3 linked regions of the Homo sapiens genome follow. The protein of the gene in region 2 purifies or fractionates together with the protein of the main gene of each other region. This does not show direct contact. Each region holds a gene or a part of one and is shown on either strand. Other genes may lie near its edges. The genes, in order: POTEE, TGDS and MTF2.

Region 1 (3,754 bases), on a different chromosome or scaffold from region 2:
AGTGTAGTGGTGGATGTCGGCTCACTGCAAGCTCCCTCTCCTGGGTTCATGCCATTCTCCTGCCTCAGCCTCCCGAGTAGCTGGGACTACAGGCACCCACCACCACGCCCAGCTAAGTTTTTGTATTTTTACTAGAGACGGGGTTTCACCATGTTAGCCAGGATGGTCTCGATCTCCAGACCTCGTGATCCACCTGCCTCAGCCTCTCAAAGTGCTGGGATTACAGGCGTGAGCCACCTTGCCTGGCCAAAAGATTCTTAAAAAAACAATCTACTGATTCTCAAAGCCTAGTCTGAAAGGTAATTTCATTTGGACTATCTAATATTATTAAGGCAAAAAAAACACAACATTAAACAAAAGTTTAAATTTAAAAGTTTCCATGCCTCTGGCTGGCCATTTTCACTGCCTTTAAGCCTTTGTGACTCTTCCTCTGATGTCAGCTTTAAGTCTTGTTCTGTTGAAAAATCCATACATTCAGTTAAAATCAACCACTTAAAACAGTTAAAAACTATTGCCTTTTAAAAACAGATTTGAGACATTTCATTTTATTTCATAAATTGAGTGTTTCATCTTTTGTGAAATTGTCATTTAAGAAATAATTCTCAAAAACTTCAAAAACCCACTTGGGGAGATAGCAGATGTCACCAGATTGAAGACAAACAAACATGTCAAAAATTCCCTCACAAATTCATCCACCCAACATCCATGAACAAAACCACCAGAAACACAGCTTTAAAATACAGTAGAAACATATAAGGTGACACAGTGTACTGTTCTCCACTTCCTAATAGTACCTTATAAATGATTTCCAAAATCACTGCTGACACCTTTATTAGTGTACAACATCTTCCTAATATCTAAAATGTTTCTCTCCACTATTCTGACAAATTTATTTTCTTTTTTTCTTTTTTCTTTTTTTTTTTTTATGAGCTAGAGTCTTCCTCTGTCACCAGGCTGGAATGCAGTGGTGTGATCAGCTCACTGCAACCTCCGCGACCCTGGTTCAAGTGATTCTCCTGCTTCAGTCTCCTGAGTAACTGTGATTACAGGCAAGCACCACCACACCCAGCTGATTTTTGTATTTTTAGTAGAGATGGGGTTTCACCATTGGACAGGATGGTCTCGATCTCCTGACCTCGTGATTCCCTCTGAAAGTGCTGGGATTACAGGTGTGAGCCACCACACCTGGCCTTATTTTCATCTTTTGAAACAATGCTATATGAAGTTTTCCTTGATTCTGCATGTCTTTCCCCAAATAAACAGGTACCTCCTTCCTTGAGGCTGCCTTAGTACTTTACTGATTTTTCTACTGCATCTTGACCACCTAAACTGTACATTATTCCTCCACGTCTGTCCCCTCTGCTCCAAGACTGCAGGGGAGAGTCTTGCACATCATCTTTGTAAAAACAGTCTTTGTTTTACTCAGAAATATTTTATTGAGTCCTGCTAAATACATGCTAGGCATTAGGGTTTAAAAAGAATTAAAATAAAGCATGTCAGAGATGGCTTTTCTAGAACACATGCCCAAGCAGAGACTTAAATATTGAGACTAGCCAGATTAAAAGGTGTAGAGGGCAGGAAAGGGTGACGGCATGCCACGCAGCAGCAAGAGCGGGAGCGACTCCTGAAAGAGTGAAAGTATTTGCCTACAATAGAAGGATGAGTGAGTAGGGCACTGCCAGCAGTTCAGTAATGCCAGAGACAGGGCACACAGGGAAAAGGGCTAAAGATGGAGAGTGGGGCAGAAGTCAGATTATGAAAGCATTATGTGTAATTTTAAGATGCTTGAACATTAATGTTCAAAAGTGGTCCCGGGTCCTATCTGCATTTAGATATAGATCATTTCAATGCCAAAACCAATATTCCTAGTGAACAATTATTCATTAAGACAAGGTGACAGATAGCTCATGTGGACACAGCTGAGATGATACAATGTAGCAAATTCTAAACAATTCTCATGAACACTTGGAAAGTCAGTTCTATAATAAAGTCATACAAATTATAATAAATCAGTAAATATTTGGTTTCGGAAGATGCTTTGTAAAGTTATAATGCATATGAATACAATTAACAGTCGTGAATTCAGAGCTGTGAAAATAAATCAAAGAAACCACATTGTGTTTGAGTCAGCAATCTTTAGATTTCTATCCAGTCTTCCCATCCAGTCCATAAATTCTAAGTATAATCCTGGTACTCACTCTCAAGTTTACGTTAAATACTATCCCATTACAAAAAAACACTCTTTCTCTTACTTCTTTTCATTATGTCCTGCTAAAAAGATTCTGATTGGCTGCAGGCGGCAAGAGGGAAAAACACAAAGCACATTTTGCAGAAAATGATTATTTAGAAGTCAGAACTATGACATGAAGCCAAGCAGGGCACTCTAGGACCGAATTTGCTGTGCTGCCTTCATACGCTCCTTGCTCTTTCTTTTCTGGCAGCTGTGACTCACACAGGTCATGGAGAGTATCATTCCCTAAGAGGAACAACTCCGATATTCATCTTTATCTATTAAGTTCATCTGTCCCAATTCTGTGTTCTGTGGATGCTGACTTTCTGTCACGGACGATGATGCACATGGACATTTATTACTGACTTTCAGATTCTTGGATCTTTGACAAGTCTTATTACTTAGAGTCAAACTAGTAGGATGCGAGTTATAAATGCTGATTATCCAATTACCTACTCAAAATACCCTACACGAATATTCCATTAAACATGCATCGAAAAACATTAGTCATTCCTGCTGACCTGCTGCTCTTTGCTCTTCTGTATTCACCAGAAAATTTCCTACTCCTTCCTCATGTCCAGGTTAAATACTAGTGTGCAATCTGGAAACCTGTACATCATCTGAGATTTCTCTCTGTCCCCCAAGCCTTTCTCATTCAATTATCACTAAATCATATTGACTATACCTCTCTTCTGCCTCTGTTTTATATTCCCACTGCCACTGGGAACACAAACATTTACAAAATGACTTCTATTTAAAAGAAAACTGCCAACTATTAATGTTATTTCTTACAGGAAAAAAAATTAAGCAAAACAAGTGAAAAGGGCATAACGAAGGCCAACATAGTAAAATGAGTAACTGAGATTTCTAACGTTATTTATTTCACCATGGACGGGTGAAAACCTTGTAATACATTGATGCTACTCCAAGGATGTGTGACATGGAAACTATAGCTGACTACTGCAAAAGCTTCCTTTGTCTCCTGGTTTCTTTGCATGATTATCTCCCATCAATCCCAGGAAACTATAGGCCACAGGCCAAATCCAATCTGCATTATGGTTTTGTAAATAAAGTTTTATAGGAGCTCAGTCATGCCTGTTTGCTTACATATAATCATGGTGGCTTTCACACTACAACAGCAGACAACAGCACGGTTAAGTAGATATGACAGAGACCACATAGTCCAAAATATTTCCCACCTGGTCCTTTAAAGAAAAAGCTTGCTAACCCATTTTACACCATAACCAGAATGCCTTAATACTCAAATTTAATCTTGTGGCTCCCCTGCTCAAATTTCTCCAATGAGCCCCCTCCAGCACACATTGTTGGCTCCCTATCAATAGCCATTCCTCATTCTTTCTGGCAGAAAAAACATAAGTCTATTGGGATATTTAATATCCCAATCCCCCTCCTCAGCCTCAGAAAGAAATGTTTATTCTAAGCTAATCAGATATTTACCTTCCCAGTGCCTGGTTTGGGAATGAGCATGTGGTATGACCCAGCCAATGAAATGTTACAGGAAGC
Region 2 (3,754 bases):
TGGTAATGTTAAACCAGAATCCTCAGGAGGCTTCTAGACTAAACCCAGGATTCCCAGGCTAATAACAGCTGAAACCATTCTGAGTTGGATATCCACAGTGGGTCCTGGGCTTCAGAGGACCCTAAAGGGGAATCACAGGCATATCTCAGTGAAATGATCTACCAGATTTACCATGTATACTTAAAATGTTGGGCTCCCAGGAGAGGGGAGCCCTTGACCAAATTATGAACTTGAAGTTTGTATTCGGCATTCCTTTCACAGCACTTTCTAAGTCGCACCCTTCCTGGACCCGCACTCTCACACAAGTATCACCCTTTCATGTCCATAGTCCTCTTTCTCATTAAGTGAAACTTGCCAGCCTGATGCTCTCCCCCAAATGACTTGTCGGATTAGAAGGGGTGATTTAATGTGCAAATGGCCATAAACAGGAATCCTCACATTCCCACTTCTTCCACTAGCCACTGAGTTCCTTGAGGGGAGGATAGGAGAGTTTCCTGTTTATTACTCTTGCATTCATCCATTCCACAATTACTAAAGACTTATATAGAATGGGCCAGGCATTCTTCCAGGTGCTGAATGAACAGTAGTCTCTGTCCTTACCGAGTTTGCATTTTAGAGTGGGGATACAAGCAATAAACAAGCAGACACAAATCCGCAATATAATTTCAGGTAGAGGTTAAGTGTGCTAGTTGGGAGAGGGGCTATTTTAGATATGGTGGTCAGGTAAGAACTCTCTGAGGTGCTATCTGAATAAAAACCAGAATTGAGTGGTGCAAACAGCCTAAGGAAAGGGGAAGCAAGTGCAAAGGCCTCAAGACAGAAGTGTGTATCTTGGTGTGTTCCAAGAACTAAGAGGGGAAGCATGGCAGGTACAGAAAAGCAGATCAGGTTGCAAAAGTAGGGCTTGGGCACTTGAGTTTTCTAGATATGGTAGAGTTTGGGCTTTATTCTTAAGTGTGGCAGGAACCACTGAAGTAAAATCCTGCTTCTACCATGATCTGATTGACTTAAGAAACACTGACTTGTATGTGAGCAACAGGCTTTAAAGGAACATGAGTGGACGCAGTTATGGCCAACCAAGAGGCTACAGCAGCAGTCGAGGCAAAAGATGACAGTAAACATGGGCTAGGGTGGAAACGGGAAACTGGTGAGAAGTGGTCGCCGTAAGGATATACTTTGGAAGTAGAGAGGACTTGCTGCTCGAATGTGGGTCTGAGGAAGAAAAGGGTGTCAACAGTGGATTTGTAAAAGTTTGCTGATTACATAGATGTCCTATTATAGTCCTTAAATCGTTTTGGGGGTGCCTATATGTACAGGGCCCATCGTGGGGTGTGGGTGCTCTAGGCTGGAGGTGGGAAGCAGTCGGTGAGCAGCTTAGGGTAACTTGCACGCACTCAAGGAGTGACATGGTGAGCACCTCCGGCCACAGAAGGGCGGAGAGTAACGCAGCTTTGGAAGAGGCGTTTTAAAGAAGTCAGTTTCAAAGGAACCACTTCTTTGCAGGCCAGAGAGAGAAAAGCTGGTCCAGGTCGTGCATTAGGACCCTCCCCATATCAGAATAAGGACCCCTCAAAGCTGGACCCAAATTACCTAGGGCAAGCAGAGCTGCGGGAAAAGGTAGGGGTTTCTGGGGAGCCACTGCTTGGCTAGCGGCGCCATTACCTACATGAAACCAGCACCGCCGGTCACCAGGACCCGCTTCGCAAAGCCGCCGGGAAGACCCCACGGTTCCTCCCAACACGCCGCCGACATCTCCCAGCTCAGCAGTGCCTAGTACCGTAAAGAGTATGGTCTGAAAAGCGCAGGGAAGTTCCGCCGCGACCTTTTGCGACGCGCCTCGCTCGCGGGACACGTTAACAGAGCAGCCAGAGGCAGCTTCCGGAGACTGCTCTGTGGCCAGTTTCTGCCCGCCCACTAGCGGGCTGGGCGGGGCCGCGCTCACCACGCGCAGGCGCTGCTCCTTTCCGCCCTTGCCTGGTCCGCCAGGTGCAATTGGGGTCGCCCGGATGGTAGGGGTATGGAACGTTTTTCCCGGAAATGCCACCACTATGGATCAGATTTATGAATGAGTACCTTTTTTCATTCTTGTACTACAGCCATCTCTAGAGGTTACCTATCAGTTGAGCTGAGAACGGGGAGTTGTTGCAGATGGAGATGGGAGGTTGCAATTTAAAAATGATTTTTTTTTTTAGTGGGGCGGGGACAGGGTCTCCCTCTGTTACCCAGGCTGGAGTGCAGTGGTGCGATCACGGCTCACTGCAGCGTCGACCAATGGGGCTCAAGCAATCCTCCCACCTCAGCCTCCTGAGTAGCTAGGAATACAGTCGTGCGCCACCACGCCCGCCTAATTTTTGGTAGAGATGGGTTTCGCCCTGTTGTCCAGGCTGGTCTCGAACTCCTGGGATCTAGCCAACCTCCCGCCTCAGCCTCCCAAGGTCCTGGGATTACAGGCGTGAGCACCGTGCCTGGCCTGCAAAATGATCTTTTGCTGTTGTTAATATTATTTCAGGCCGGGCGCCGTGGCTTACGCCTGTAATCCCAGGACTTTGGGAGGCCGAGGTGGGCGGATCACCTGAGGTCAGGATTCGAGACCAGCTTGGCCAACATGGTGAAACCCTGTCTCTACTAAAAATACAAAAATTAGCCGGGCGTGGTGGCGGGCGCCTGTAATCCCAGCTACTTGGGAGGCCGAGGCAGGAGAATTGCTTGAACCCGGAAGGCAGAGGTTGCAGTGAGCCGAGACCGCACCATCGCACTCCAGCCTGGGCAACAACAGCAAAACTCCGTCTCAAAAAATAATAATATTATTATTACAGACAGCGCAGAAGGCTTGCAATCATGATAAAGATATTCCCTAGGTCCTACGCTGATGTCTTATTCTATTCTCTCCTTTGCTCACTCCGCCCCAGCCTCCCCACCCTCCTTGCTCTTCATTCAATGTGCCAGGCATGCTACTTCCCCGGGACCTTGATTGTCTTTCCCCAGATGTCTGCCTAGTTTTTACCCTTACTTCCGTTTTCAGCTTGAATGGCATCCTATTGACCACCACAATTAAAATAGCGAGCTCTGCCCAACCCTGCCGAATCATCTTATCCTTCTTTATTTTTCTTCCTAGCACTCAACATTTACATTGATGTCACTGCCCTCTGTTTAGTGTTCCATGAGGTCAGGGGCTTTGTTTTGTTTTCTGCTGTAATCGCATGTCCTTAGAGACTTGGCACAGAATAAATGACCATTAAATATTGTCGAATAGATAAATATCTTTTTTTCCCCACCATAATGTTTGGCAAAGCTGAAAACGAATGGAAACATCCAGTACAGGTGTATATGTGGAAGAATCATACCACAACCTTTTTACAAGGCAAAGTGGTAAAACATATGAAAATTTCAAATGTTCATATTCTATGACCCCCTCAAATTCCATGATGTATAATATAGATAATTGTTCATTGCTGTATTGCTTGCAATAATGAAACACTGGAAATAATCTAAATGTGTATAATGTCTTCTAACTTTTAAAATGCAGTAAACTGCTATATAGCCTTTAAAAAGAATATACCAACATGGAATGAAGACCAAAATATATTGCAGTCGATACGTACAGTTTTTTTCTGACCAGACTCCTCCCCCCACTGTCCTTTATGATCTCCCCAAGTTGACCCAGGCAGGCCACAGAATGAAATCTGGCTGACTCTAGGCCAACTGAAGCCTCTTCTTGGGATTTAGAATTCGACTAAGGTGCTAGTATAGTCTG
Region 3 (3,754 bases), on a different chromosome or scaffold from region 2:
TCCACAAGGCACTGGTCACAGAACCTCCTGAGGATACCAAAATCCACAGATACTCAAGTTCTGCAGTGTGACCCATAGAACCTATGGATGCTAAAAGTTGGCCCTGGCTGGGCCCAAGTGGCATGCCTGTAATCCCAGCACCTAAGGAGGCCAAGGCAGGAGGATTGTTTGAGGCCAGGAGTTCAAGAATAGCATGGGCAACATACCAAGACCCCGTTTCTACAGAATATTTTAAAAATTAGCCAGGTGTGGTGGCATGCACTTGTAGTCCTAGCTACTCAGGAGGCTGAGGTGGAAGGATCACTTGAGCCCGGGAGTTTGAGGGTACAGTGAGCTATGATCACGCCACTGCACTCCAGCCTGGGCAACAGAGAGACCCTGTCTCTTTTAATGAAGAAAAAAAAAAAAAAAAAAAGGCCGGGTGCAGTGGCTCACGCCTGTAATCCCAGCACTTTGGGAAGCCACGAAGGGCGCATCATGAGGTCAGGAGATCGAGACCATCCTGGCCAACATGGTGAAACCCCGTCTCTACTAAAAAATACAAAAAAATTAGCCGGGCATGGTGGTGGGCATCTGTAGTCCCAGCTATTCATGAGGCTGAGGCAGGAGAATGACATGAACCTGGGAGGCGGAGCTTGCACTGAGCCGAGATGGTGCCACTGCACTCCAGCCTGGACTCCGTTTCAAAAAAAAAAAAAGAAAGAAAGAAAAGAAAAAAGGTAATGTAATTAGGATCCATAACTATACTATAATGACAATGCTTTGAAATTTTAAAAGTATTTTTAGTACTAGATAAGCACTTCACAAACTACCCTTCTATCTCCCTGATTATGGGAGAATTCTTTAACTACTATCAAAAAATCCTCAGAACTGAGAATCAACAGAGGGGCTCAAGTACTGATAAGAACTTTAAATTAAATGAGGATAGGAGAAAGTGATGCTTTATCTTATCAAGGAAAATGGTTTACTTTGTTTCTATATGTTCAAAGTATTTCTTTTAATACTTACATTTTTAAAGACAGGGCCTTGCTCTGTCACCCAGGCTGGAGTGCAGTGGCACATCATAGCTCTCATAGTTCACTGAAGTCTCAAACTCCTAAGCTCAAGCAATCCTCCTACCCAATCCTCCTGCCTCAGCCTCCTGAGTAGCTGGGACCACCGTGCCTGGCTCAGGAATAAATTTAACAGAAGAAGTTCGAGAATTGTACAATGAAAACTACATAATATCAGAGAAAGAAATTAAATAAGATCTATATAACTGGAAAGGCATCCCATGTTCATAGATGTTAATAATATTAAAATGGCAAGTCTTCCCAAATCAATCTATAGATTCAATACAATACCTACCAAAATCCCAGCTGCGTTTTTTTGCACAGACTCACAGATTGATCCTAAAATTTACATGGAAAAGTGAAAGGAACCCAGAATAGCCAAATTGTTTTTTAAAAAGAAAAAAACTTGAGGACTCACAACGTCCCAATTTCAAAACTTACTATGAAGTAATGGTAATTAAAATATTATGGTACAGTCCTAAGTACAGACACATAAATCAATGGAATAAAACTGGGATCCAAGAACAAACTTTTACATGTATGGTTAATTTATTTTTGACAAGATTGTCAAACACAAGTCAATGAGGAAAGAATTAGTTTTTTTTAACAAATGGTACTAGAAAACTGGTATCCACATGCAAAACACTGAAGTTGGACCCCTACCTCACACCATATATAAAAAATTGACTCAAAATAGATGACGGACCTAAATGTAAAAGCTAAAACTATAAAGCTCTTTAGATACGGCATCAAAAGCATAAGCAAAAAAAAAAGGAATAAATTGAACTTTATCAAAATTAAGAATATTTGTGCTTAAAAGGACACCATCAGGAAAGTGAAAAGATAATGCACAGGATGGGGGAAGAAAAGTCTGCAAATCATATCTGATAACAGGCTTGTATCCAAGAATAAAAAGACAGTCCCATTTTTTAAATGAGCAAAAGACTTAAATAGACAGTTCTCCAAAGAAGGTATACAAATGGCCAACAAGTATGTGGAAAGATCCTCAATATAATTAGCCATAAGTGAAATGCAAATCAAAACCACAATGAAATACCAATTCAAACCCTAGGATGGTTATAATCAAAAGATAGACAATAATAAGTATCAGTGAGGATGTGGATAAACTGGTGAGATAATCACTCACCAGATAATCGCTAGTGAGCTTGTAGAATGGCACAGCCTCTTTGAAAAACAGTTTGGCAGTTCCTCAAAACACTAATCCGAGTTATCATCTGACCCAGTAATTTCACTCCTAGATATGTGTACCCAAGAGAAATGAAAACATGTTCACCCAAACCCTATACATGAATGATCACTGCAGCATTACTTACAATAGTCAAAATGTGGGAACAACCCAAATGTCCATCAACTGATGACTAGACAAACAAAAAAAGGTATATTCATATAATGAAATATTATTTGACCCTAAAAAGATATGAAGTGACTATAAATGCTACAACATGGCTGTTCCATGAAAACATTAACGATATAGTTTGGATTTTGTGTGCCCGCCCAAATATTCCGTCAAATTGTAACCCCCAACATTGGAGGAGGCCCCTGGTGGGAAATGACTAGATCATGCAGGCAGATTTTCCCCCCTGCTGTTCTCATGATACTGAGTTCTCTGGTTGTTTAAAAGCATGTGGAGCCGCCCCCATCTCTAATCCTCCTGCTGTGGCCACTTCAAGGGGGCCACTTCAACAGGAAGTTTCCTGAGGCCTCCCCAGCCATGCTTCCTGTATGGCCTGTGGAACCGTAAGCCGATCAAAATTATTTTCTTTATAAATTACCCAGTCTCAGTTATTTCTTCATAGCAGTACAAGAATGGACTAATATAGTCATGCTAAGTGAAGGAAGCCAGACATAAAAGGCCACATATTGTACTACTCCATTTACATGAAATGTCCAGAACAGGCAAATTTATAGACACAGAAGGTAGATTAGTGGTTGCCAGAGGATAGTGGATAGGTGAAGGGGACTGACTGTTAATGGATTAAGATTTTCTTTTCTTTTTGGGATGATGAAAATATTCTGAAATTAGGTATGGTGATGGCTGCACAACTTTGTGAGTATACTAAAAAAAATCACTGAACTGTACACCTTCAAAGAATGCATGTGAATTATGTACATATAACTATAGTATATAAATTATATCTCAATAAAACTTATTAACAACTGTACAGTTAAGATTTGTGCATTTCAATATATGTAAACTTCACCTAAAAATAAACCTTTAAAAAATAATAAAAACAATGGGCTGGGCACAGTGGCTCAATCCCAACACTTTAGGAGGCCACAGCAGGAGGACTGCTTGAGGCCAAAAGTTCATGACCAGCCTGGGCAACACAGTAAGATCCCGTCTCCACAAAAAAAATTAAAAATTTAAAAATTAGCCAGGTGTGGTGGTGTGCACCTGTAGTCCTAACTACTCGGCAGGCTAAGGCAGGAGGATCACTTCCGCCCAAGAGTCTGAGGCAGCAGCAAGTTATGATAGCACCACTTCACTCCAGCCTGGGTGACAGAGCAAGACCTTGTCTCTTTTTACAGAAAAAAAAAAAAAAAAGAATGGTTACATAAAAGCTCACTATTCTATTCTGCTCACTTTGTATTATGTTTGAAATATTCCTTAAGTTTTTTCTACCAAAGTGTAAAAACAAAGTAATTTTTTTAAACAACAAAACGTTCCTAATATCCATTTT

The links.
Region 1: the proteins of TGDS (region 2) and POTEE purify together in Homo sapiens (affinity purification with mass spectrometry; 2 studies listed by BioGRID and IntAct, with this or other methods). This does not show direct contact.
Region 3: the proteins of TGDS (region 2) and MTF2 purify together in Homo sapiens (affinity purification with mass spectrometry; 2 studies listed by BioGRID and IntAct, with this or other methods). This does not show direct contact.

Annotation. Positions count from the first base shown.
Region 1 is NC_000002.12:131,247,478-131,251,231, reverse strand, and holds part of POTEE (POTE ankyrin domain family member E), read right to left. Parts: intron 455-3,754; coding exon 384-454; intron 1-383.
Region 2 is NC_000013.11:94,594,385-94,598,138, forward strand, and holds the start of TGDS (dTDP-D-glucose 4,6-dehydratase), read right to left. Parts: upstream 1,769-3,754; 5' UTR 1,753-1,768; coding exon 1,667-1,752; exon of another isoform or gene 1,591-1,666; intron 1-1,590.
Region 3 is NC_000001.11:93,082,138-93,085,891, reverse strand, and holds part of MTF2 (metal-response element-binding transcription factor 2), read right to left. Parts: intron 1-3,754. UniProt on the Homo sapiens protein: Polycomb group (PcG) protein that specifically binds histone H3 trimethylated at 'Lys-36' (H3K36me3) and recruits the PRC2 complex, thus enhancing PRC2 H3K27me3 methylation activity.